7 linked regions of the Homo sapiens genome follow. The protein of the gene in region 5 purifies or fractionates together with the protein of the main gene of each other region. This does not show direct contact. Each region holds a gene or a part of one and is shown on either strand. Other genes may lie near its edges.

Region 1 (2,466 bases), on a different chromosome or scaffold from region 5:
TCTTTCCCTTCTCACAGGTTCTAGCTCTTATCTTCTTGTACCCCTTCCCTGCCGCAATATATTATCTTACGCAAAGCAAGTAAACTTTCAGTTTCCTATTCCCATTACTCTATTTAGCAAACCTAGGACCTTCCTTAGGACCCAGCATCCTCACAAGGCAGGGTGGGGTTGTAAATAGCCCCCAGTTTTTGCTGTGTCATAAATTATTTTATTCCTTGTTACATTAGCAAAACAGACATTTCAATGTGAATCCTCCCCGTTGATAAGCTTAAATTAAGAATATAAAGTACAACACTGTAAAACCTTTGCCCTGATGTTAAAAGCCTTTCAGAAGGTTTTTGAAATCCCTATTTCCCACTTGATCTGGGTTCCTCTTCACCCTGTGAGACACTCCAGCTGCATTGAACTGCCAGTGTTCCCAATCAGCTGTGCTCTGTTAAACATCCACATTTTAGAAAAGCATGCTTAATTTTTCACTAAATGATAATTATTTCCCCAGCATTTAATGTATTACTCATTCTCTCCACATCAAGGACCTTGTAAACAAATTCAGAGCATTATCTGTAGGTTCTTTTAAGATCATCTTTAAATAATTTTCAAGGTGGGATGCGGGGAGTGTCAGCAAGGCTTCTCTCATTAAAAAACCTTAAAATCTCCATTTGTCCCTGTCAAAGCCTGAATTGGAAGCAGGGTCAGCATTAGGGTGAGACAAGAGATGCAGGGTTGTGCAAGTGCAGGGTTGTTAAAAAGGAAAAAAATTGAAATTGCTTAAGAAAGTCATTGCTTTTGAGGGGTAATAGCAGGTGTACTTCCCTAAGTACAATAGCAAATCTTTCAAAGAAAATTTCTATCCTATTTTTCCTTGAAAATAACCATATTGAATACAGTTATAGAACTGTATTTTATTTATTTGTATGTGCTACAATTTGGTGCATGCAGCAACCACAGTTCCTTAAATTTTTGGCCATTGTTTTCAGGACTCAAAATAGCTCAGCATTCCATTCTATAAGGCCCATGTTTCTTTCCCATGGTACAGTATGAGTACTTTTTAAAGTAGGTGAACATAAAATAAAAGTTTGCTAGTTGTAGTGCATATGAACAAAATAACCACATGGGTTTTATGGCACATGTTCTAAAAAGATAAAGATATAATGGAGAGATATCTCATTCAAACAGGTTAACATTATAAACAGTGCAAGTGAGGGCCATAGAAGCAAAGTAACATAGTAAAATTAACAAATATAAAAACCTAAGCTGAAAGAGGAGGTATGGAGATTTTTTAAATAGTCCTGAAAGATAATAGAGATTGCTCATAATTTGAAGTAGACATAATTCAGGATTTGAAATAAATCATCTAAAATTTTAAACATGTCATATTGTTTAAATCATTCTCTGTCCTATAGGAATGACGGTAATAACTTGACTATGTACTTTGTAGTGTCCTGAAAATAGTATGCTCAGTTAAGTTTATAAATTGCAAAATAACCATCTCTTTAAAGTGGAACAGCATTCATCAGGGAATTGTTCACTTATGAAGAGGTCATCCAGACCTGGAGACAAGCTACTTTTTTGGTGAATAGAATATATTGCCATTGCTACTATTTATCCTCCTTGTTTTCAGGAATGCTTCACTACTTATTCTCATTATGATAAACTCTATCTCAGGCTTTTAGGTATCATTTAAAACCCACTTGTGTGGGGAGGTTCTATCACTCTCCAAATAACTTTGCAGGGCCCAAGGCTATAAATATGAATATATTTATACAAACCTATTTTGTTATAATAGGGCCTTGGGCCTACTATACAAACCTATTTTGTTTAAGGCTATAAATATGAATGTATTTATATAAACCTGTTTTGTTATAATAGAGCCCAAGGCCCTATTATAACAAAATAGGTATGTTATAAAACTATTATAACAAAATAGGTATGTCATAGAACTATTATAACAAAATAGGTTTGTATAAATATATTACAGGACAATTATTTACCATTATTACAGGAAAATTATTTCTCATCTGTATATCCAATAATTACACAAAATGGTTGTGTTTTGAAGTTGGAGAACAACCACATTCTAAAAAGGCACAGAGCAAAAAAGAAAATAAGCTCATATTTTACTATACGAAAAAGGTAAACAAAGAAGTGGTTGAAAAATCCATGTTCTATTTAAAGTCCTCTCATTCCAGAATTATAGAATATAATTGATTTTATGTGATTATCAAGTATAAGCTCTTGGAAATTTTATGATGTAAAAATAGAGGCAAAGCTGTACTCATTAATAAAATAAAACATTTGATTAGCATATATTGATAAAATAAAATATTCATGATTGTAGTTTATTTTTTGTTGAATTTATTAATAATCTTTATATATATTTATATATGTATGGCTTTGAGCAAAGACAAAAGAAATACTCTAACTCATCCCTGATCATACAGTTGTTGTAAGAATCAGCTATTCTAT
Region 2 (3,500 bases), on a different chromosome or scaffold from region 5:
TCAAAGTGGCAAAACTGTCCAGATTGGGTGGCTCATGCCTGTAACCCCACCACTTTGGGATGCTGAGACAGGAAAACTGCTAGAGCCCAGGAGTTTGAGACCAGCCTAGGGAACAAAATGAGACCTTGTCTCTATAAAAAAATAAAAAACCTTGGCCAGTGCGGTGGCTCACGCCTGTAATCCCAGCACTTTGGGAGGCCAAGGTGAGCGGATCACGAGGTCAGGAGTTCAAGACCAGCCTGACCAACATGGTGAAACCCCGTCTCTACTAAAAATACAAAAATTAGCCAGGTGTGGTGGTGTGTGCCTGTAATTCCAGCTACTCAGGAGGCTGAAGCAGAAGAATTGCTTGAACCCGCGAGGCAGAGGTTGCAGTGAGCCGAGATCTCGCCACTTCAATCCAGCCTGGGCGACAGAGCAAGACTCCATCTCAAGAAAACAAAACAAACAAACAAAAAACAAAAAACAAAAAACAAAACAAAAAAAACACAAAAAAGAAAAGAAAACAAAAAAACTTAGATGGGCATGGCAGCCCATGCCTACAGTCCCAGCTACCTGGGAGACTGAGCGGAGAGGATCCCTTGAGCCCAGGAGGTAAAGGCTGCAGCAAGCCATGAACACACCACTCCACTCTAGCCTGGGTAACAGAGCGGGACCTCGTCTCAAAAAAAAAAAGAAAAAAGAAAGCAAATTTTAAAAAAGATACGTAATATTCAGCACTGATGAAGGGGTGAAGAAACACACAGTTTCATATGCCAGTGGTAGAAGAATAAACTGATATAAACTGGAGGGGGTAATTTTATTAAAAAGTTAGAAAAGGTTTAATTAGTAGAATTCTGCATTTGTATCTGCATTGTATTTTAAGCATAATTTGTTGAAATCAAAGAAAAACATTGATTTGCACAGAAATTCAGAGTTAGAAATGTCCATTACAGTGTTGTTTACTTTTTTTTTTTTTTTTTTTTTTTGAGACAGAGTCTCGCTCTGCCACCCAGGCTGGAGTGCAGTGGAGCAATCTCAGCTCACTACAACATCTGCCTCCTGGATTAAAGCGATTCTCCTGCCTCAGCCTCCCGAGTAGCTGGGATTACAGGTGTGCACCACCACGCTCAGCTAATTTTTGTATTTTTAGTAGAGACAGGGTTTCCCCATGTTGGCCAGGCTGGTCTTGAACTCCTGACCTCAAGTGATCTGCTGGCTTCGGCCTCCCAAAGTGCTGGGATTACAGGCATGAGCCACTGGGCCCGGCCTGTTGTTTACAATTTTAAAAATACATTTAATTTTCATAAATTGTGTGTAAGTAGATTACATGTTTGAGAAGACAGATTCTATGCCACATTAAAAGTTAGAGCCAGAAAGTTTAACTTCATGATAAAATGTTACCAAATTAAACCAGAATAGACAAGAATACATAACAGGGTTACTGGCTAGTGGGATTATGATAGTACTTAATGGTAGAAAATCTTGTTTTCTAAATTTTCTGCCATGTATTAGGATTAGATTTGTAATATAAAAAATAAAATGGCCTTCAATTTGCAATGCATTATATGCATTTTTTATCCAAGGAGAAGTATTTAATGACCAGCCATAGCAAATCATATTATATAAGGTCTGCAAGATACCTATGTATTGTGAAGTTATAGTCCTATTGCCTCAAAAAGCTTACCACAAAAAGTCCTGTATTTGCGATGTTCCTTTTTCACCAAAATAAGTATTTTGCACTTTACCCCTATTATCATCAAGCAGACTCATTTCCCCCACCCTCCTGCTTCCTCAAATCAGTTTCTAGCTGGCTGCCTAGAGTTCAAAACCCCTAACCAGTCCCTAAGCTTTGAATTTGCACTTTTTCTATTCCATGTAACATGTGACAAACCATTACTCAGTTGAACACTTTCCAGAAAAAAGTCAGTTAAAAGAAGAAAGTCTTCCTGGCTGGCCTAGGGAAAAAAAAAGTAAGGAAGCCTTTTAACTTGCTTACTTTTCTACCTCAATTCTCTTTATTTAGACACTGTTTAGAATTAAAGGATGAGTTTAGGATTGGGAAAAAAAGCTATTATCTCAAAGCCTGGTTGTTCTTTTCTTTCTTTTTTGAGATGGAGTCTCACCCTGTTGCCCAGGCTGGAGTACAGTGACGTGATCTTGGCTCACTGCAATCTCCATCTCCTGGGCTCAAGCAATTCTCCTTCCTCAGCCTCCTGAGTAGCTGGGATTACAGGCCTGCGCCACCACGCCTGACTAATTTTTGTATTTTTAGTAGAGACGGGGTTTCACCATGTTGGCCAGGCTGGTCTCGAACTCCTGACCTCAGGTGATCCACCCGCTTCGGCCTCCCAAAGTGCTGGGACTACAGGCGTGAGCCACCGCGCCTGCCCTGGTTGTTCTTATCCTCTTTCTAGCCCTTTTCTCTACCCTCAAGAATATTATAAAATGATGTGCGAAACTGCCTATCGGGATAGAGTGCATAGGAAGTAAAAAACTATTCCTACAGACTCAAAATGAAAAATATTTTTATTTGCCAACATAGTTCTTCAAATCTAACACTATCAAGTTGGTACCACACTTGGGGCAATAAGGGAAGGAGACCCCTATCTGCAATTATACCTTTCATTTGGTTTTTACATCTACCTCGTTTGGCTACCACAATAAACCTCTGAGGTAGCTGGACTATCACTAGCTTCCTGATAAATTCTTCCTATGAAACAGCATCGCTTCTCCTGTTCAAACATCAGAGGCAGCAGCAGCTGCCATACTCATCCACGTAGGAAACAGCATTGGCCTCTTTATGAGTAAAACTTTGTTCAGGGCTTTAGATTTAGTAGTTGCCAGGGGAGAATAACTGTGAACATTCATGTTGATAAACCAGATTTAAAAAAGGAAATTGCTTTCTCAGAGACCATTCAGAAAGAAAGAGGATACTGCCTGATTTCTTATGAAGTATTTAGGTGATTAAAGGTGATACAGGGGACTGATCACTCCTTATCTCTAAAAATACTTCCTTTACTTGGCTTGTGGGACAACACACTCTTCAGTTTCCTCACACCCCACTGTCCACTTTTCAATCCTCCTCGATGGCGCCTTCTCTTTTGCTCAGCTTTCCATGTGGAAAGTACCAATTCTCAATTCTTGGATCTCTTCTCAGTCTAACTCCCTAGCCAAGAGATCCCTTTAAGTCTACTGGTGATGCTTAACATTTAACTATCCTCAGTCCAAACCTCTCCTCTGAATGCTTGACTTACATATCTAACTGCCTACCTGATGTGTCCACTTGGGCGTTTAACAGACACTTCAAACTTAACATATCCAAAACATTTGACTCTCTAAAGCCAGAAACTAGTAACTTTCACTATTGCCACTACTGTCGCTCTAGTCTAAGCCATTAATGTCTCTTAAACCAGATCATTCCAATCATTTCCTAGCTTATCTCATGGTTCCCAGTGTTTTAAAGAATTCCCAGAGCCATTCTTTAAAAATATAACCCAATTTTTTGGCTTTGCTCAAAA
Region 3 (4,072 bases), on a different chromosome or scaffold from region 5:
AAAAAAAACCCCAACAAATCTCGGCTAGGCATGGTGCCTCATGTCTGTAATCCCAGCACTTTAGAAGGCTGATGTGGGAGGATCGCTTCAGCCCAGGAGTTCAAGACCAGCCTGAGCAACATAGCCAGACCCCACCTCTACAAAAATATATATATATTTTTAAGTAGCCCCAGTGTGGTGGCACGTGCCTGTGGTCCCAGCTACTCAGGAAGATCACTTTAGCTCAGGAAGTCAAAGCTGCAGCGAGTCGTGATCACGCCACTGCACTCCAGCCTGTGCAACAGAGTGAGACCCTGTCTCTTAAAAAAGAAAAAAAAAGAAAAAAAGCCAGGCACGGTGGCTCACCCCTGTAATCCCAGCACTTTGGGAGGCCGAGGGGGGCGGATCACCTGAGGTCAGGAGTTCAAGACCAGCCTGACCAACATGGAGAAATCCCATCTCTACTAAAAATACAAAATTAGCCGGGCGTGGTGATGCATGCCTGTAATCCCAGCTACTCGGGAGGCTGAGGCAGGAGAATTGCTTGAACCTGGGAGGCGGAGGTCGCAGTGAGCCGAGATCACGCCATTGCACTCCAGCCTGGGCAACAATAGCGAAACTCCGTCTCAAAAAAAAAAAAAAAGAAAAAGAAAAAAAATTAGCCAGGCATGGTGGCGGGCGCCTGTAGTCCCAGCTACTCGGGAGACTGAGGCAGGAGAATGGAGTGAACCCGGGAGCTTGCAGTGAGCCGAGATCACACCACTGCACTCCAGCCTGGGCAACAGAGCGAGACTCCGTCTCAAAGAAAAAGAAAAAAAGTAGGGGAGGGGGGATTAACTTCACATGAGCGGGCTTTCCGCAGATTTTAAATGTTGTCCATATATCACTTTAACGAAAAGTAAAATGCAAACAGAAAAACAACCAACTTTCTTTCCAGCATGTGTACAAGCCAGCCCTCCCCCACCACCCAGCCAAGAAGCAGAACCACCCGATCATTCACAGGGCAGCAGAGTGCTGATCCCCAGGCAGCTGAAGGCGCTAGCCGTGGCATCCCCAAGAGGTGCCCCACCCCGCACACGGCCTGTCCCCTCACCTCGCCCTGGCGCCTGGTCTTGGGGGAAGGACTGAAAAAGTTGTGCAGGACAGAGAGCTCTGTACTGAAGAGAGCGCTCTCCTTCTCCAGGATGTACTGCTTCAGGAGTGGGGAAACCTCGTCCCCGAAGAGGGCCTGGTTGTCTTGCCAGATCTGCCGCTTCACCTCCACGGCGCAGGCTCGATACAGCTCCTTGTCAGCCATAACCAGCTTCAGTTTTTTCTCCGGAACCTACATGACACCACAGGCTGCCTGTGAGTGGCACCTGTGTCCCTGGGTCTCCTTCAAGACAAGCCAAGAGGCCTCAGCCCCGCAGAGACCACCTCGAGCTAAGCTCCACCCCACAGGGCACCTATGACTGGTTCCCCGGCCCCAGCATGTCAGACAGACATGCTAAATACCAACAGCTCTTTCCCAGGAGGGGCCCCACACCCTAACTCCAGTGCTAAGGTTCGGTCTCCACGCGGCTCATGTGGGAGAAGTCAGCACAGAGCTCACCATGGACAGCACTTGGGCAGGCAGCACAGGAAGCTCCCGGAGCTAGGCGGCCACCGGAACTTCCACTAACCAAGGGCATGAGAGTGGGCGGACGGTCCACGCCATCAGGGTTAGGGTTAGGGCCCTACCTTGGGCAGGTGCTTCATGACGCACATCACCACGGGCTGCAGGGACGGCATCTTCACCAGAGAAAAGCTCTTCTCCAGAAGGTCTTCCAGCTTCTTGTACCTGGAACAACTCACAGGATTGATGGTGCAGCGATGCGCCAAATCGCAGCAGCTACCTGCCTGTCCCTACACAGATAACAGCTACCAGGACAAGCCTCCACGCCCAGGACACATGGGTCAAGGGGTCACTCAGACACAGGCCCAGGCCACCTCTGGGAGCAAGGATGTGGAGCCAAAAGGACAATAAATGCCCCTGAGTCGATCCAAGGCTGAGAGGCCGGCTGCACATCTCACCTGCCCACCCCTCCCGCTGACCCACCTTTCCTCAGCCTTCCCCTCCGAAGCGATGGCTGACACTCGCTCCAGCAGCTTGTCCCGCAGCTCATCGAATACCGACTGGTGGAACTCCAGCCGCGGCGTCCCGTGCAGGTCCAAGAAGGGGAGGGCTGACTGAAGAGATGGCAGCAGCACACCATTCTCTGTCTGAGGAAGCCAAGAGAAACCTCAAACGCAGCCCAGTGCGCCCGGGCACCCCGAGGTCCTGAGAGCACAGGGAGGCACGCACCCAGGTGTTCCCAGCCGTGCTGGCGGTAACCGCAGCCACCGAAAGCCACCCAGCCGTCCAGCAAAGGGGTGCTGGCTCCGGACTCCACCCCCAGAACAGGACTCAGCCACCAGCAGAAAGCCGGAAAACTTCCGGCGCCTCCGCCAGGCCCGACTCCCGAGCAGGCGGCCCGGCCCTCCAACTGGGCTCCCCCCGCCCCGGGGGCCGCCCCACCTGGAACTGCTCGATGGCCTTGAGCGGCTCCGTGCAGTTGGTCAGGGTCTCCTTCAGGTCCTCGCCGTTGGCCACGCCCAGGTCCTGCAGCCCCGCGAACATGGCCGAGGCCCCGGCCACCGCCCGGCTAGGCGCCCCATCCCCAGCCCGTTCCCCCGGCGCCGCCGCAGACACCCCAGAAGCCCGCTCCGCCGGGCCTCGGGGACCGCCCGAGCCCCGCTCCCCGGCGCCCTCCAGCTCGGCCAGGTCCCGCCCGCCGCGCGACTCCGCGCGCGTCCCGCAGCCGCCCACTTCCGCCCCGCACCGCCCAGGTCCGCCCGCCAACCGGCCCCCGGGAAACGCCGCCGGGGCCGCGCGCAGGTTCCTGGGAGCAGCGCCCTCACCCGGCGCGAGAGACCCCGCCCAGCCAGCCCAGCGCGCATGCGCCCACCCGGTCCCGCCCGCGCCCGGGCTTTCTGGCAGAAGAGGGCGGGTGAGGGCGTGGGGGGCGGACTCAGGGTCCGTCTGCTCCGGGAACGGACGTCGTCGCAGCCGAGTGAATTTCGTGTACATAAGCGTGGAAAACGCTCTTGCAGATCTCGCGGCAGCCACGCGCAGCGGGGACGTTTTGCCGGGGGTTGAGCTCCCCGCCCCTCTGCCCCGCAGGGGCCGGACACAGGCGCAGACTCCCTCCTGAGCGTGGGTTCCTCCGCGTGAAACGGGCACGAAGCCCACCCCGGCGCTGTCGCCAAAACTGAGATCTGAGCGCCTTCAGGGGGCCGGGGCCTGGCGGAGACCGGGCCCGCAGCGGGAGCGCGAGCGACGGCCGCCCTCCCAGGCACCGGGAGGCTGTGGCGCCCACCGAGCTCCGCGGAGCCGTGAAGGAGAGTCCAGGTTCCACAGTGTCCCTTCTTATCCCAGGCGGGTGGGCTCCCCGGGCCTCCCCGCCTCTCCAGCCCGCCGCCCTCCCGCAGGCTGTGCCGCGCCAAGCCCCCTACACACACCCTCTCTCTTTTCGGTCTCCGCTGCTGAAATTTTCTCTAGAAATTTCTTTCCCGCTGCCCAGCAAACTCTTGCTCTTCCTTGAAGGCTTCTTCCTCCACCACCTCCTCCAGGAAGCCCTCCCTCCTCAGCCCAGCTGGAGGAGATCGCTCCATCTTTCCTGCCGCTCCCACTCCTAGCTTTGGGTCTCACCAGGGGTGCCTGGTGGTGCAGCCGTGAGCAGAGCTCCTGTTCCCACAAGCCGGGCCGAGCTCCCAAGGCCATGGCTACCACAGCTCTCTTGCCGCTGGCCAAGTTGGTCAGCCCTAGGGCGAGGGTTCCAGTGCCTTGATCCAACCCCCAGCTGGTTCGGTGGCAGAGGAGGACAAGGGTCACAGCACACACACAATCCTGAGCCTGGGATTCCTCTCTGAGAAAGGGGGTGGTGCTGAGGCCACAGAAGCAGCTGCCCAGAGCCTTTTTGAAGGGGTTGAGCTCTGGGCCTGGTCTGGGTCCTGGGTCTGGGGAGGACCTGGGGAGGTGCGGGTGACGGCACCGCAGGTAAGGCTCCTGCAAGGTGGCAGCCTTGGGGCCCGA
Region 4 (2,287 bases), on a different chromosome or scaffold from region 5:
GGTTTTGTTTAAATATACCCATTGAGCAGCTCCTTTCCTAGAGGCCAGGAAATAGGGCTGAGGACTCTACCCTCAGTTTTCAATCTAGAGACTGTGAAACTGTAGAGAAACACACTGTCTAGTAGCAATCCATATACTTTTTCTAGTAAGCATATTAAAAACCGAATACTATACTATATTCCTTACAGCCCAGTGAGTTTCCCAGAATCATAAATAAAACCCACCAGTACCTACTATGTAACTCCCAGTAAGAGGCTTTGACTTTTGTCAAAGTTGTGTCCCAGTAAAATGCCTTCAAGATACCACAAACTGGCCTGGCGCAGTGGCTCACGCCTGTAATCCCAGCACTTTGGGAGGCCTAGGCGGGTGGATTACCTGAGGTCGAGTCAGAGACCAGCCTGGCCACCAAGGTAAAACCCCTGAAAACACGTGTTAGCAAACGTACCTTGTTAGTATCTACATTAAGAAAAAAAAAAAAAAAAAAAACCTTGAAATTCAGGCAATGTAAACAGGTTAAAGATTAACACCGAAACATCATGAGTGTACTGTGTAGTGGTGAAGCAGCTGAAAACGGACTCGTGTCATCTTTTTATGATTGTTGAAGTGGCTCTGAAAAGAGCCTTTGTTTTTATGCGCTTTTCAACTCGGTCTTTACTTAGTCTTGTGGTGGCTCTCAGTTTTCTTTGGCAGCAGCACGGCCTGGATGTTGGGCAGGACGCCACCCTGTGCGATGGTGACTTTGCCCAGAAGCTTGTTGAGCTCCTCATCGTTGCGGATGGCCAGCTGGAGGTGACGCGGGATGATGCGAGTCTTCTTGTTGTCGCGGGCCGCGTTGCCAGCCAGCTCCAGGATCTCGGCGGTCAGGTACTCCAGCACCGCCGCCAGGTACACCGGCGCTCCAGCACCGACCCGCTCCGCATAGTTGCCTTTGCGGAGCAGGCGATGCACTCGGCCTACGGGAAACTGAAGCCCGGCCCGAGAAGAGCGGGTCTTGGCCTTGGCGCGAGCTTTGCCTCCCTGCTTACCACGCCCAGACATGGCAAAAGGTCTATTACCTTTACGGTCAAGAAAGACTGAAATGAAATTGGAAAAACGTACATTTTATAGCCTCTACTGGGCGCGAAAAGGAAGCTGTGCGATTGGCTTACGTTTTATTTTTATTTAGACCAATAGGACTCGAGTATGCAGGATACCTATTTTGATTGGGCAAAACTGGCATCTGACGTCATCCACGGATAATCACCAATCAGCACTGACCTATTCTACTCCTAATTTGCATAATAACATTTAAATAAAGAGGACGAAACAGCCCTAAGGTTGTCTTTTATTTTGTTTTCCACCATGCCTGAACCAGTCAAATCTGCTCCAGTCCCTAAAAAAGGCTCCAAGAAGGCCATTAACAAGGCTCAGAAGAAGGATGGAAAGAAGCGCAAACGCAGCCGCAAGGAGAGCTACTCTGTGTATGTGTACAAGGTGCTGAAGCAGGTCCACCCCGACACCGGCATCTCTTCCAAGGCTATGGGAATCATGAACTCCTTCGTCAACGACATCTTTGAGCGTATCGCCGGAGAAGCGTCACGCCTGGCGCATTACAACAAGCGCTCGACCATCACTTCGAGGGAGATCCAGACGGCCGTGCGCCTACTGCTACCCGGGGAATTGGCCAAGCACGCCGTGTCCGAGGGCACCAAGGCCGTCACCAAGTATACCAGCTCCAAGTGAGCCTCTCGCTGCAGTAACAGTTCCGCCGTGACCCACACCCCAAAGGCTCTTTTCAGAGCCGTCCACGTTTCTCAAGAAAGAGCCAGTTCACTGTTAAGTTTGTCTCCCATTAGGTACCCTTTGGGACTCGCTTCGTACATATAAATGTACTTGTATATGTGGGTTTTTTTTTGTTTTTTGTTGTTGTTTTTGAGGTGTAGTCTCACTTTGTTGCCCACCCTGGAGTGCAATGGCACGATCTCGGTTCACTGCAATCTCCACCTTCCGGGTTCAAGCGATTCTTCTGCCTCAGCCTCTCGAGTAGGTGGGACCACAGGCATGTGGCACCAGGCCCTGCTACTTTTTGTATTTTTAGTAGATACGGGGTTTCACCACGTTGGCCAGACTGGTATCGAACTCCTGACCTTAGGTGGTCCACTTGCCTCGGCCTCCCAGTGTTGGGATCACAGGTGTGAGCCACTGCGCCCGGCCCAAAATATTTTAAAGAGGATTATTAGCAACTATGAGTGACCGTGGCTTAGGGAAGACACAATCCCCCGAGACCATGAGAAAGTGGTTCTGAGGC
Region 5 (3,500 bases):
TTTCTTTACAGACATACATACTAAAGAAAAACCAAACACCATGACCACCACTACAGAAACCTCAATGGGGAATATGTCTCCTCTTCCCGCCCTTTGCTGTTTCTTAAGTTCATTCTATTTAAACTTTTGTCTTCACCAAACCACTGACCTCCAAGTTACCAAATCTAATAATCAATTCTCAGCTTAATCTCTACTTATCAACAAGCATTTAACACATTTCTTTCTTGAAATACATTCTCCTTGGCTGCTCCTTCTCACTGTCCTTTGCTAGACAATCCTCATCTTCCTAATCTTTAATCGTTGGTGTGTCCCAGAACTTGATCCTAGGACCCTATTTCCACCTACACTCACTTTATAGTTAATATCATCCTGCCCCTACGGCTTTAAACATCCTGTTTTATAACTCCAAATCAGCCAGGAGCGGTGGCTCACGCCTGTAATCCCAGCACTTTGGGAGGCCAAGGCAGGTGGATCACAAAGTCAGGAGATTGAGACCATCCTGGCTAACACAGTGAAACCTCGTTTCTACTAAAAATACAAAAAATTAGCCAGGCGTGGTGGCGGGTGCCTGTAGTCCCAGCTACTCAGGAGGCTGAGGCAGGAGAATGGCATGAACCCAGGAGATGGAGCTTGCAGTGAGCCGAGATCGTGTCACTGCACTCCAGCCTGGGTGACAGAGTGAGACTCCATCTCAAAAAATAAATAAATAAATAAATAAATAAATAATTCCAAATAATTATTTGCAGTTCCATTTCTCCCCTTCAGACTCCCATTCACGCCTTTCCTGGGACCTGATGGACTTGATCCCTTGCTCCATTTAGGTCTCTTCTCAAATACAACTTAATGAACTCCCAAAAATGTTGTCAACCACTGTATCTAAGACTACACCTTCCATCCTCCAGCCACTTTCTACCTCTTCCCTCTGCTTTATTTCTTCTGCCTACTTAACACCTCCACTTGTACGTGAATTTAATATGAGAAAAAGACCTCCAAAGAATTTTCACCTTTCCCTCCAAACCCAATCTTTCTTCAGTATTCCCGTATTTGTTTAAATCAAAACTGCAGAGGTATTATTTACTCCTCATACAATATATTACCATTCCTCATACTCTTCACTCAATCCATCATGAAATGCCAACACCTCTATATGCTTAAAACATTTTCCAAATCTAACCATTTAATCAGACCTTCCACTGCCAGCTTCTCTAATACAACCCATGTTCATTTCTCTACTGAAAAGATTATAGCAGCTGTTCTCCCTGCTTTTATACTCTTACCTCCTGTGGTCTAGTCCCAACAAAACAGTCCAATAATCTCTTCAATGTTTCTTTTCTGTTGAGATCCCTTTACTGGCTTCTCATCACATTTACAGTAGGTCAAGTCTTTACAGTGGTCTACCAGCATGTCTGACCTCCCCTGAGATCTCACCTCATACCCTCTCCCCCTTCATTCACATCATCCCCATCACATGAGCCTCTCTTTAGTTTCCTAAGTAAGCTCGGCCATTTCTTCCTCAGAAACTGTTGAGTCACAAAAAAAGACTGACAGAAACAGCAATTAACGTGTATAAAGGATGAGAGTCTGCCAGAAAGACTGGATGACAAGAACAAAATGAATTAAAATTAAGTTCTACCACTTCTTGTCCATGTAAAATAAAAGTTGCTGATTTTTAAAAGTAATCAAATTCCTTCATTTGTGACAACAACAAAAAATATGGAAACCACTGCTTCCCTCAGGCTCTAGAGACAACTAAAGTAAGAACCGATTCCAAATATCTGTCACCTGGTAGATGCCACAATGTTGCTCCCTTCCCTCCATCATATAATTATTTTCTCAAAGACAACAAGCACATAGTAGCTCAGTGAATGATTCTACTTAATTTTCAAATCTATAGAACTATTTTCTTTAAAAATGGAAGTTATTCAGTCACTAATAAATCATGCTATATTATGTCCTTAGTGCATAAGGCAAATACCACTGGCCTATATATTCCTATTTTTTTTTTCTATTATGCCCAATAAATTTCATAGCGTTGTAATAGTAGAAAACGTTGGCGAAGACTTTTATATTTGATCTCAATAATTTTTACTATCCTAGAGATCCATCTATATATTTTTAAGAGAACACACTGACAACCTTGAAGTAGCTTAGTTATATGGATGAGAGCTTTAGGAATTTTCTTTTGATGCTCTTGACTGGCTTAACCAGACTACTTAGTCAGAGAGCTAGTAGATATTATAAAGATTATTAAAAAATATGGTTTAAAGGATCAAGACAACTTTTACTTCTGACATGGAATAGGTAGGAAAGTCAGCCATTCAGTCAATTAACTAAATGCAGTTAAGTTACAGGAATAAGCGTACATGTTCAAAAGCAGCTTTCGATCAGCTTCTGCATATGATGTTTTACGTGGCACTAAGGAACGACTTTGCTCTGAAACTTCAATTCCTAAGGTGAAATACATTTTATTTCAAAAGATATGAAAAAGAATCATCATGCTTTCAGCAAACGTGATATATGTTGTATAAGCCAAACACTAAGGAGGAGTATTTCAGGAAAGCACTATTAAGACGCTAAAAATAAGTGCATATTACAATCTCACTGACTTTTCCTGTCCTTGTTTCCTAGAAGCCCAGAGTGCTGCCCTAAAGCTACTATGTCTCATGTACCCAATCTCTCCATATATGTAAGTCTACTTGTTATTTTTAGCACATTTGTCAGGGGCAGCTGTTGAAGAGTAGAAGGAAAAAAACAAGAAAGAACACAGTCATGCATGATGGGACAGGAGAAGGGTAGCAAAGAACAGACTGAACATAATGTTCGGTCAAAACATCTAGCGGTGAGGGGAAAAAAAAGAAACCCCAACGACACTGAGGAGAAAAAAGTTGTGGCTACTGATAACAAAAATGATGATCTATCCCTAGTTTTCCAAGTTCCCTAGGAACTGCAAAATTGATGTAAGGTTTATTAAGCACAAAACAAACTCAAAACAGCTGTACTAATATTCTGCAGTGAAAAAGGAGAATCAATAATCAACAACCTCCATTCTGGTAGGTTGCCTTTAAAAATCAGCACTGTCTCATTTAAAACCAATACTTTAAAAATGTTATTTATGCTGCAGGCATCTCTTTTGCTAAATCCTTTATATTTAATCATCATAACCCTATGGTGCAGGCATTTAATGCCCCCACTTAATGGATGAACTTAATCTAAAACTTGGTTTTCTCAAAACCTCACAAATAAGTAGCAGAAACAGGATTCAAATCCAGCCTGACTTCAGAGTCCAAGCTCTTACACATTCCACCTGTCTTGTTACCTTAATTCTTTTGTTCTTCTATCAACTAGAAACTTTGGCCATAAGGGTTCCCTATTATAGGCATGGATCACGTGGTTTTGCTTTTAGAAGTGTTACCGGAATGACTGCTTTGAAAAAACAGACTGAAGGCCTTGCCTCAGCTTTTGTAGCATCAGGAAGCCATAAGCAAGGTTTCTGGCAGCTG
Region 6 (3,500 bases), on a different chromosome or scaffold from region 5:
CTTGGGTAATTTTTAAATTTTTTGTAGAGAGAGAGTTTTTCCACATTGTCGAAGCTGGTCTTGAACTCCTGGGCTTTAAGCAATCCTCCTGCCTCGGCCTACCAAAGTGCTGGGATTACAGGCGTGAACCACAGTGCTTCCAGCCCCAGGTTTGTTTTTAAAAGAGATTTTCCATGGGGTGGAGTAAATGAGGCTGGATACGGCTTGTACCTGATGTTAACTGGAACCAACATTTTCTACTAATCTAGGTTTAGGAGAAGAGTATGTATGCAACTGCACTCATATAAATGCATGAATGACTCTGAATACAAACAAAATGTGCATATATAAATTAAACAGGACAATTAAAAAAGACTAATGTCACTTATGCAGCCCAAATAATTCCCTAAATAATACAAACACATTATCTGAAAAGCCCTAGATAATAAGAACAAAACACTTCCCAGTTAAGGTCAAACAACTATATAAAAATATTATGTGACAACTGAGTGAAGAGATCCTAATCAGTAGCTCAAAGGGTCTTGCTCTGTGTCCCAGGCTGAAGTGCAGTGGTTCAATCTCAGCTCATTGCAACCTCTGCCTCCCAGGTTCAAGCGATCTGCCTACCTCAGCCTCCTAAGTAGCTGGGACTACAGGTGCATGCCACCATGCTCGGCTAATTTTTAAATTTTTTGTAGAGAAAAGGTCTCACTATATTGACCAGGCTGGTCTTGAATTCATGGGTTCAAGCGATCCTCCTGCCTTGGCCTCCCAAAGTGCTGGGATTAACAGGCGTGATCCACTGCACCTGGTCCCAGTGCTCTTTTTTAGCTTTATCTATTGAGATTAATAAAACCCCCCACATTCTCTGTATAATCTACAAAATAAAAAGCTACCTGCATGAACTATTTCCATTAGTGTATTCTACAGTTTGAAATGCTTCTCCAGCTATCACCGTGGAGACTAGTGCTCATCCATTCCTTTGAGCCTCTTATAATTTTCTTAATGGTGTTTTGTGAATTTCTCATCTCATCTCTAGTACTGGACTACAAGCTTCTCAAAAACAGAAACACCATCTTCTTCATCTTTATATCCTCAGAACACTTACACAGTGCCTTGCCCAGGAGGTTTAATAACATTTCAATCAAATGGAATTTATATATGATTCAAATGTAAGGAAATATAAACACAGAGCTAGAGAAACCATTAAAAAAGGAATTTCAAATCCAGTTACACATCTCTTCATATTTAACTGACATTTGACACAAATCTGAAGCAATAAAGATTCTTGCAAAAGATACCTCTTATTTGGAGACAACACAAAATGTCAAAGCAGCTCTACTTAAACAGGTTCTTGATGGCAATAATTTTTAAGCCAGTATGAACAGAAACCTTAGATATATGATCCATTTGATCAAAGTTTCAAAACAAGTAAAAACATTTTATATCAATCTGGAAGTATTTACTGAGTGCCGGTGCAAAGTTCTGTGCTAGACACTGGAGACACAACAGTTAACAAGAAAAAAAGCCCTCCTATCAAGAAACTTACAGCTAATTGAGTGCTCAATTAACTCAAGCCAAGAAAGAATTATTTAATGCACCTGTTATCAGCCACTTGAAGGAGGTCTGCAATGTAAGGGTCATCTGGTTGAGGAACTGGATATGAACTGACTTCAGAGGGAGGAACCGGTTCATCAATTTGCATACGCTGGCGCCTGAAAGCAATACTTCTTTTCTTGCCACCTAAAAAGAATGAGTGTCTTAAAAAACTAAGAAGAAACAAAACCATGTCTTAGAATTAAATATTCCAGGTTAGCCTTTCGGTTATAAAGTGTGTCTGCAGTTCATAATACATATTGACAAAATATTTTCTCCATCAATATATAAATATCCACCCTGATCTTTAACTAAACAATGCATTCCTAAAAACCTCAACAAGACATGGTTATCAAACAAGTTTTATATGCCTGCAAGCTTGGCATATATGCCCAGGCTTAATATGTTTGCCCACTAGATGGGGATAAGACTTTGGCAAGTTTAAAAGCTGAATGCGGCCAGGTATGGCGGCTCACACCTATAATCCCAGCACTTTGGAAGGCCGAGGCGGGTGGATCACCTGAGGTTGGGAGTTCGAGACCAAGCCTGGCCAACATGGTGAAACCCCGTCTCTACTAAAAATACAAAAAAATTAGCTGGGCGTGGTAACGGGCACCTGTAATCCCAGCTACTTGGGAGGCTGAGGCAGGAGAATCTCTTGAACCCGGGAGGCCGAGGTTGTGGTGGGCCAAGATTGCGCCACTGCACTCTAACCTGGGCAACAAGAGTGAAACTCCATCTCAAAAAAAAAAAGCTGAATGTGCCTGTGGTGTTCACTATTATGAGCTCAAGAAATTATCACTAGCAGAAAACTGGCAGTGAGAACTAAAATATGCGTGGTTATTAGCTAATATCAACATAAAAGATAACTGAAATTGTAAGTAGCAAAGTTAGAATGAATGGAATGTCATCTATAATATAAAGTCATGCTATAATCTGAATTAGGAGGGAATGTTTTCTTAACCTCTACAAGTAGTAGGACTAAATTTTCTTATGGCTAGATATATCTTGTCTTGGTCAAAAATACATGGACAATTTATCTCTTTAAGGATTTTGCCAAGATTAGAAGTGTATTTGAAAAACCAGCAGATCCTTGTGAAGAACAAACATAATCCACAATTTTGTCTCATTAGAATTCTAACAAATTTTGTATACTCCTACAGAGGTAGGAGTATACAAAAGGAGTTTTAAGGATAAGAAAACTGGGCCAAAAGTATTTAAATGACCTGTTTGTTCACACACCTGAACAAAGCTAACCATTCCTTCTTTCTTTACCTCCTGGTTTTCCTCCTTGGTGGCTCCTCAGTTTCTTTCAGAAACTGTCTTCTTCCACCTGTCCCTTAAATACCAATTTCCCTCACATCTGACTCTGGGTCTCCTCTCTTCCCAGTCTACATAATCTCACTAGATAATTCTTACTACACCCATAGCTTCAATTACCATGAGACTCCAATGACTCTTAAATTTGCATCTCCACCAGGGCCCACACTTTTGAGAACAGATCTACATATCCCACTGTTTGCCAAAAATTTAGACATGAATGTCTTGTGGGTATAGCATACTCCACACATCCAAAAGTGGACTCCTGCTCTGCTTCCCACATTCTCTAACTTAAGAAATAGTATCACCCTCCACCTAACTCATTCACTCGAAAGAGAAGTCTGAGAATTCCTCTGCTTCCCAAATCTACATTTACTCACTATCTTGATTATACATCTTGAATCTCTCCGGAGTCTATCCCATTCTTTCCTCAGGAAACCTGATTATCCTCTTTTTTGCCTTAATCTTCTAGTTACTTTCAAGGTTGACTCCCACTTTTCTCTATCTCTTCTGCCTTTTGCTCACAGTCCCCATGTCCATCTATCTCATTTACTAAACTATCTCACGCTCCACTGAGTCTTCCCCCACCTGGCTTCACAGTTCTA
Region 7 (3,500 bases), on a different chromosome or scaffold from region 5:
GGATTGGTGGGCCCTGTGGCACTTGTACCTGCTGTTGCTGTTGCTGCTGCTGCTGCTCCTTCTCCTTGAGCACTTTCTCTTCTTCCCCAGCCTGTTTATCTTCTACTGCCAGCTCTTCAAAGAACTATAAAGGGAGTTAAGCTACAGGTAAACATGTTTCCAAGAGCAATCCAAGCAGGCTGTGCTCTGCCACACATTGGCCCACTGGCCCTCCACTCCACCCTCACCTTACCTCCTGTCTCTCTCTTTTTTTTCTTTTTGTGGAGAATGGAGTGTGCAGGTCTCAAATTCCTGGGCTTAAGCTATCCTCCCACCTCTGCCTCCCTAAGCGCTGGGATTACAGGTGTAAGCCACCGTGCCCTGCCTATCTCCTCTCTTGACAAGATCTTTTCTCCTCCCTTGGACCTCCCACCTCCTTCACATGGCTATTTATTTAGCTTGGAAACATCCATAGTCATTTCTTATCCTCAACCCTCATTTTCTCACCGTTTTTTTGATCTTCTTGTCCTTCTTCCCTTTCTTCACCACTTTGTCTAGAAAGTTAAGCGGACATCGTGAATGCTTATCTGCAAATTCCAAAGCAGTCTGATCCCCCCTGCAAAGATCTCTGTAGCCTCTATCCTATTTTATTATTTTTCTAGCTTAACTATCACTCCTTAAATATTTGTACTGTCTCACAACTCCTGCAGAAATAATCATTCCCATCTCTATTCATTCATCCACTAAGTATCTACTAAACAGCTACCATGTGTCAGATATTGTGCTAGCGTAGGGGATCATAGCAATGAACAAGACAAATGTGGTCTCCTCTGGAGCTTGCAGGCTATAGGAAGAGAGATTTTTAAATAGGTAATTCCAGGTGTACTGAAGGTTCCAAAAGAAAAGGTAAAGCCTACTTGGTGGTGGGGGAGAGGCTGGCTTCATCTCTGGTGGCGGCCTCTCTAAGAAGATGGCATTTAAGCAAATAACTGAAGTAATGAGGAGTATGAGAAGTTAGTCAGACACATGGTGTAATTCCAGTGCTGTGCACAGGCCCAGCTGTGAGAAAGCACACACACTGAGAGACAGGGAAAGGTTTGGTATGGCTAAGCTTACAGACTGAGGGGAGAATGGTGCAAGGTAAGGCTGGAGTGAGGGCCTTGTAGCAAGGTTAAGGAATGGGGACTTTATTGGTATGATCACTTTCACACTTTAAAGTTTCACTCTGGCTTCAGAGTACAGCAAGAATCGGAGGGAATAAGCATAGTGGGAAATCCACTGGGGAGGCTGTCAGAGTAGTCTGGGTGGTGGTGACAAGCGGACATAAAGAAGAATTCATAGGATGGGGCTAGAGGTGGGGAATAAAGAGCACCCGGCCGGGCGCGGTGGCTCATGCCTGTAATCCCGGCACTTTGTGAGGCAGAGGCAGGCGGATCACTTGAGGTCAGGAGTTCAAGACTAGTCTGGTGAACATGGTGAAACCCAGTCTCTACTAAAAATACAAAAAATTAGCCAGGCATAGTGGCGGGCGCCTGTAATCCCAGCTACTCAGGAGGCTAAGACAGGAGAATTGCTTGAACCCAGGAGGCGGAGGTTGCAGTGAGCTGAGATCACGCTATTGTACTGCAGCCTGGGTGACAGAGCAAGACTCTATCTCAAAAAAAAAAAAAAAAAAAAAAAAAAAAAGAGCACTCAGAGATGACTCCTGTGTTTTTAGCTGGCAAAATTAGCTGGGCTAAGTGGTACCATTTATTAATTAAGGAGGCAGTGGAAGAGAAGGTCTTATAGGAAGGAAGAAGATATTATAAATTCAATTTGGGAGATATGTGTAGATACACACACATGTATACAACACACACACACCCTCCTTTTTTTTTTTTTTTTTTTAAGAGACAGGGTCTTGCTCTGTCACCCAGGCTGGAATGCAGTGGCATGATCATAACTCACTGTAACCTTAAATTCCTAGGCTTAGGTGATCCTCCCACTTTAGCCTCCTGAGTAGCTAGGACTACAGGCAAGCGCCACCATGCCTGCCTAATTAAAAAAATAATAATTTTTAGAGAGGAGGTCTCACTATGTTGCTCAGGCTAATCCTGAACCTCTGGCCTCAAGCAATTCTCCTGCCTCAGCTTCCCAAACTGTTGGAATTATAGGCCTGAGCCACTGTGCCTGGCCAGGGGGACACGTTGTTTGTAAAACCTATAGGCCATGTAAATAGAGTTATCTGGTAAGCAAATGAACACCTCAGTCTATGCCTTACTTGTTCTGCTTGAATATTATAGCACAAATCACATTGTGTCATATTTACCTGTCTGTGTGCTTTCATTCTAGAGAGTAACCTGAGAGACTGTTTAGCCTGTGTTCCCAGTAAAGCCAAAACAGATTCAACAGATTCTAGCTCTCCCCCTCTCCATCCTTGTTTCCCTGAAGGTAGAGGACCATGTCCAACTCCCTCCCCTACTGGAGGCAGCCTCATGATTTCCCTTCAGGCTTAGGCCTATTTATTATCTTCTCTTCCAAAACATCCCTTCCATTCACTGCTATCTAATTCTACCCTTAAGCATTTCAGTATTTAATATTAAAAAAAAAAAAATTGGTCGGGTGCGGCGGCTCAGGCCTGTAATCTCAGCACATTGGGAGGCCAAGGTGGGTGGATCACAAGGTCAGGAGATTGAGACCAGCTTGGCCAACATGGTGAAACCCCATCTCTACTAAAAATACAAAAATTAGCTGGGCGTGGCAGAGCACGCATGTAGTCCCAGCTACTTGGGAAGCTGAGGCAGGAGAATCGCTTGTACCTGGGAGGTGGAGGTTGCAGTGAGCCAAGATCGCGCCACTGCACTCCAGCCTGGGTGACACAGCGAGACTGTCTCAAAAAAAAAAAAAAAAAAGAAAAAAAGTCAATGGTATCCGCCATCTACTACATTAAAATATTCTCAGACTAGAATTCCATGTATTTCAAAGTAATCATTTATTCAGGAAAGTTTTATGGTGCATCTACTTCTCCAAAAAACTAGAGTTAACGAGAGACAATTCCAATAATTAAAGGCTTCACAGACTAAAATGGCCCTACCCTATCTTTTCTGTTTCCCTACCCACACCTCTGGTCTCGATACTGGCTTCTTTCTGTTCCTTTATGAAGTCCCAGGCACGCTTATGTCTGTCTTTGCTTAATCTGCATCCTCCATCCAGAACACATTTCAAAGTTTGGGGCCCTCCTCCTCCCCAAAAAACAAACCACAAAAAACAAACAAAAAAGTTAAAGAAAAAAAATCTGAGCCCAGTATTGGGTGACTAGTGTGAGAGTTGAAAAATTGTGCAGGATTAATAATAAAAGGCTTTATATGCTATTCCAAGGAGTTTAATCCTAAAGGCATTAGGAGGAAGGATCTACTGAAGTACCTAAGAAGGAAAAACCTGATCAGCTCACCTTATCAACACAGATGACTGACTCATCCCAGACACTAATTTCTCCCCAAGGACTAACACAGCCATACCATCTCTCCTTCCTTTAAATCTCT

What was found.
Region 1: the proteins of YBX3 (region 5) and HCN1 purify together in Homo sapiens (co-immunoprecipitation; one large-scale study listed by IntAct). This does not show direct contact.
Region 2: the proteins of YBX3 (region 5) and CEP170 purify together in Homo sapiens (co-immunoprecipitation; one large-scale study listed by IntAct). This does not show direct contact.
Region 3: the proteins of YBX3 (region 5) and NELFB fractionate together in Homo sapiens (co-fractionation; one large-scale study listed by BioGRID). This does not show direct contact.
Region 4: the proteins of YBX3 (region 5) and H2BC14 fractionate together in Homo sapiens (co-fractionation; one large-scale study listed by BioGRID). This does not show direct contact.
Region 6: the proteins of YBX3 (region 5) and CEP135 purify together in Homo sapiens (co-immunoprecipitation; one large-scale study listed by IntAct). This does not show direct contact.
Region 7: the proteins of YBX3 (region 5) and ABCF1 fractionate together in Homo sapiens (co-fractionation; one large-scale study listed by BioGRID). This does not show direct contact.

What each region holds. Positions count from the first base shown.
Region 1 is NC_000005.10:45,256,915-45,259,380, forward strand, and holds part of HCN1 (potassium/sodium hyperpolarization-activated cyclic nucleotide-gated channel 1), read right to left. Parts: 3' UTR 1-2,466. UniProt on the Homo sapiens protein: Hyperpolarization-activated ion channel that are permeable to sodium and potassium ions. Displays lower selectivity for K(+) over Na(+) ions.
Region 2 is NC_000001.11:243,245,282-243,248,781, forward strand, and holds part of CEP170 (centrosomal protein of 170 kDa), read right to left. Parts: intron 1-3,500.
Region 3 is NC_000009.12:137,254,055-137,258,126, reverse strand, and holds the start of NELFB (negative elongation factor B), read right to left. Parts: upstream 2,801-4,072; 5' UTR 2,762-2,800; coding exon 2,516-2,761; intron 2,221-2,515; coding exon 2,057-2,220; intron 1,799-2,056; coding exon 1,699-1,798; intron 1,304-1,698; coding exon 1,073-1,303; intron 1-1,072. UniProt on the Homo sapiens protein: Essential component of the NELF complex, a complex that negatively regulates the elongation of transcription by RNA polymerase II.
Region 4 is NC_000006.12:27,813,703-27,815,989, forward strand, and holds H2BC14 (histone H2B type 1-M), read left to right. Parts: upstream 1-1,319; 5' UTR 1,320-1,341; coding exon 1,342-1,722; 3' UTR 1,723-1,787; downstream 1,788-2,287. Other genes in the region: H2AC14 (histone cluster 1, H2aj), read right to left, coding at 652-1,038. UniProt on the Homo sapiens protein: Core component of nucleosome. Nucleosomes wrap and compact DNA into chromatin, limiting DNA accessibility to the cellular machineries which require DNA as a template.
Region 5 is NC_000012.12:10,706,324-10,709,823, forward strand, and holds part of YBX3 (Y-box-binding protein 3), read right to left. Parts: intron 1-3,500. UniProt on the Homo sapiens protein: Binds to the GM-CSF promoter. Seems to act as a repressor. Also binds to full-length mRNA and to short RNA sequences containing the consensus site 5'-UCCAUCA-3'. May have a role in translation repression.
Region 6 is NC_000004.12:55,955,445-55,958,944, reverse strand, and holds part of CEP135 (centrosomal protein of 135 kDa), read right to left. Parts: intron 1,723-3,500; coding exon 1,581-1,722; intron 1-1,580. UniProt on the Homo sapiens protein: Centrosomal microtubule-binding protein involved in centriole biogenesis. Acts as a scaffolding protein during early centriole biogenesis.
Region 7 is NC_000006.12:30,574,442-30,577,941, reverse strand, and holds part of ABCF1 (ATP-binding cassette sub-family F member 1), read right to left. Parts: intron 534-3,500; coding exon 487-533; intron 125-486; coding exon 29-124; intron 1-28. UniProt on the Homo sapiens protein: Isoform 2 is required for efficient Cap- and IRES-mediated mRNA translation initiation. Isoform 2 is not involved in the ribosome biogenesis.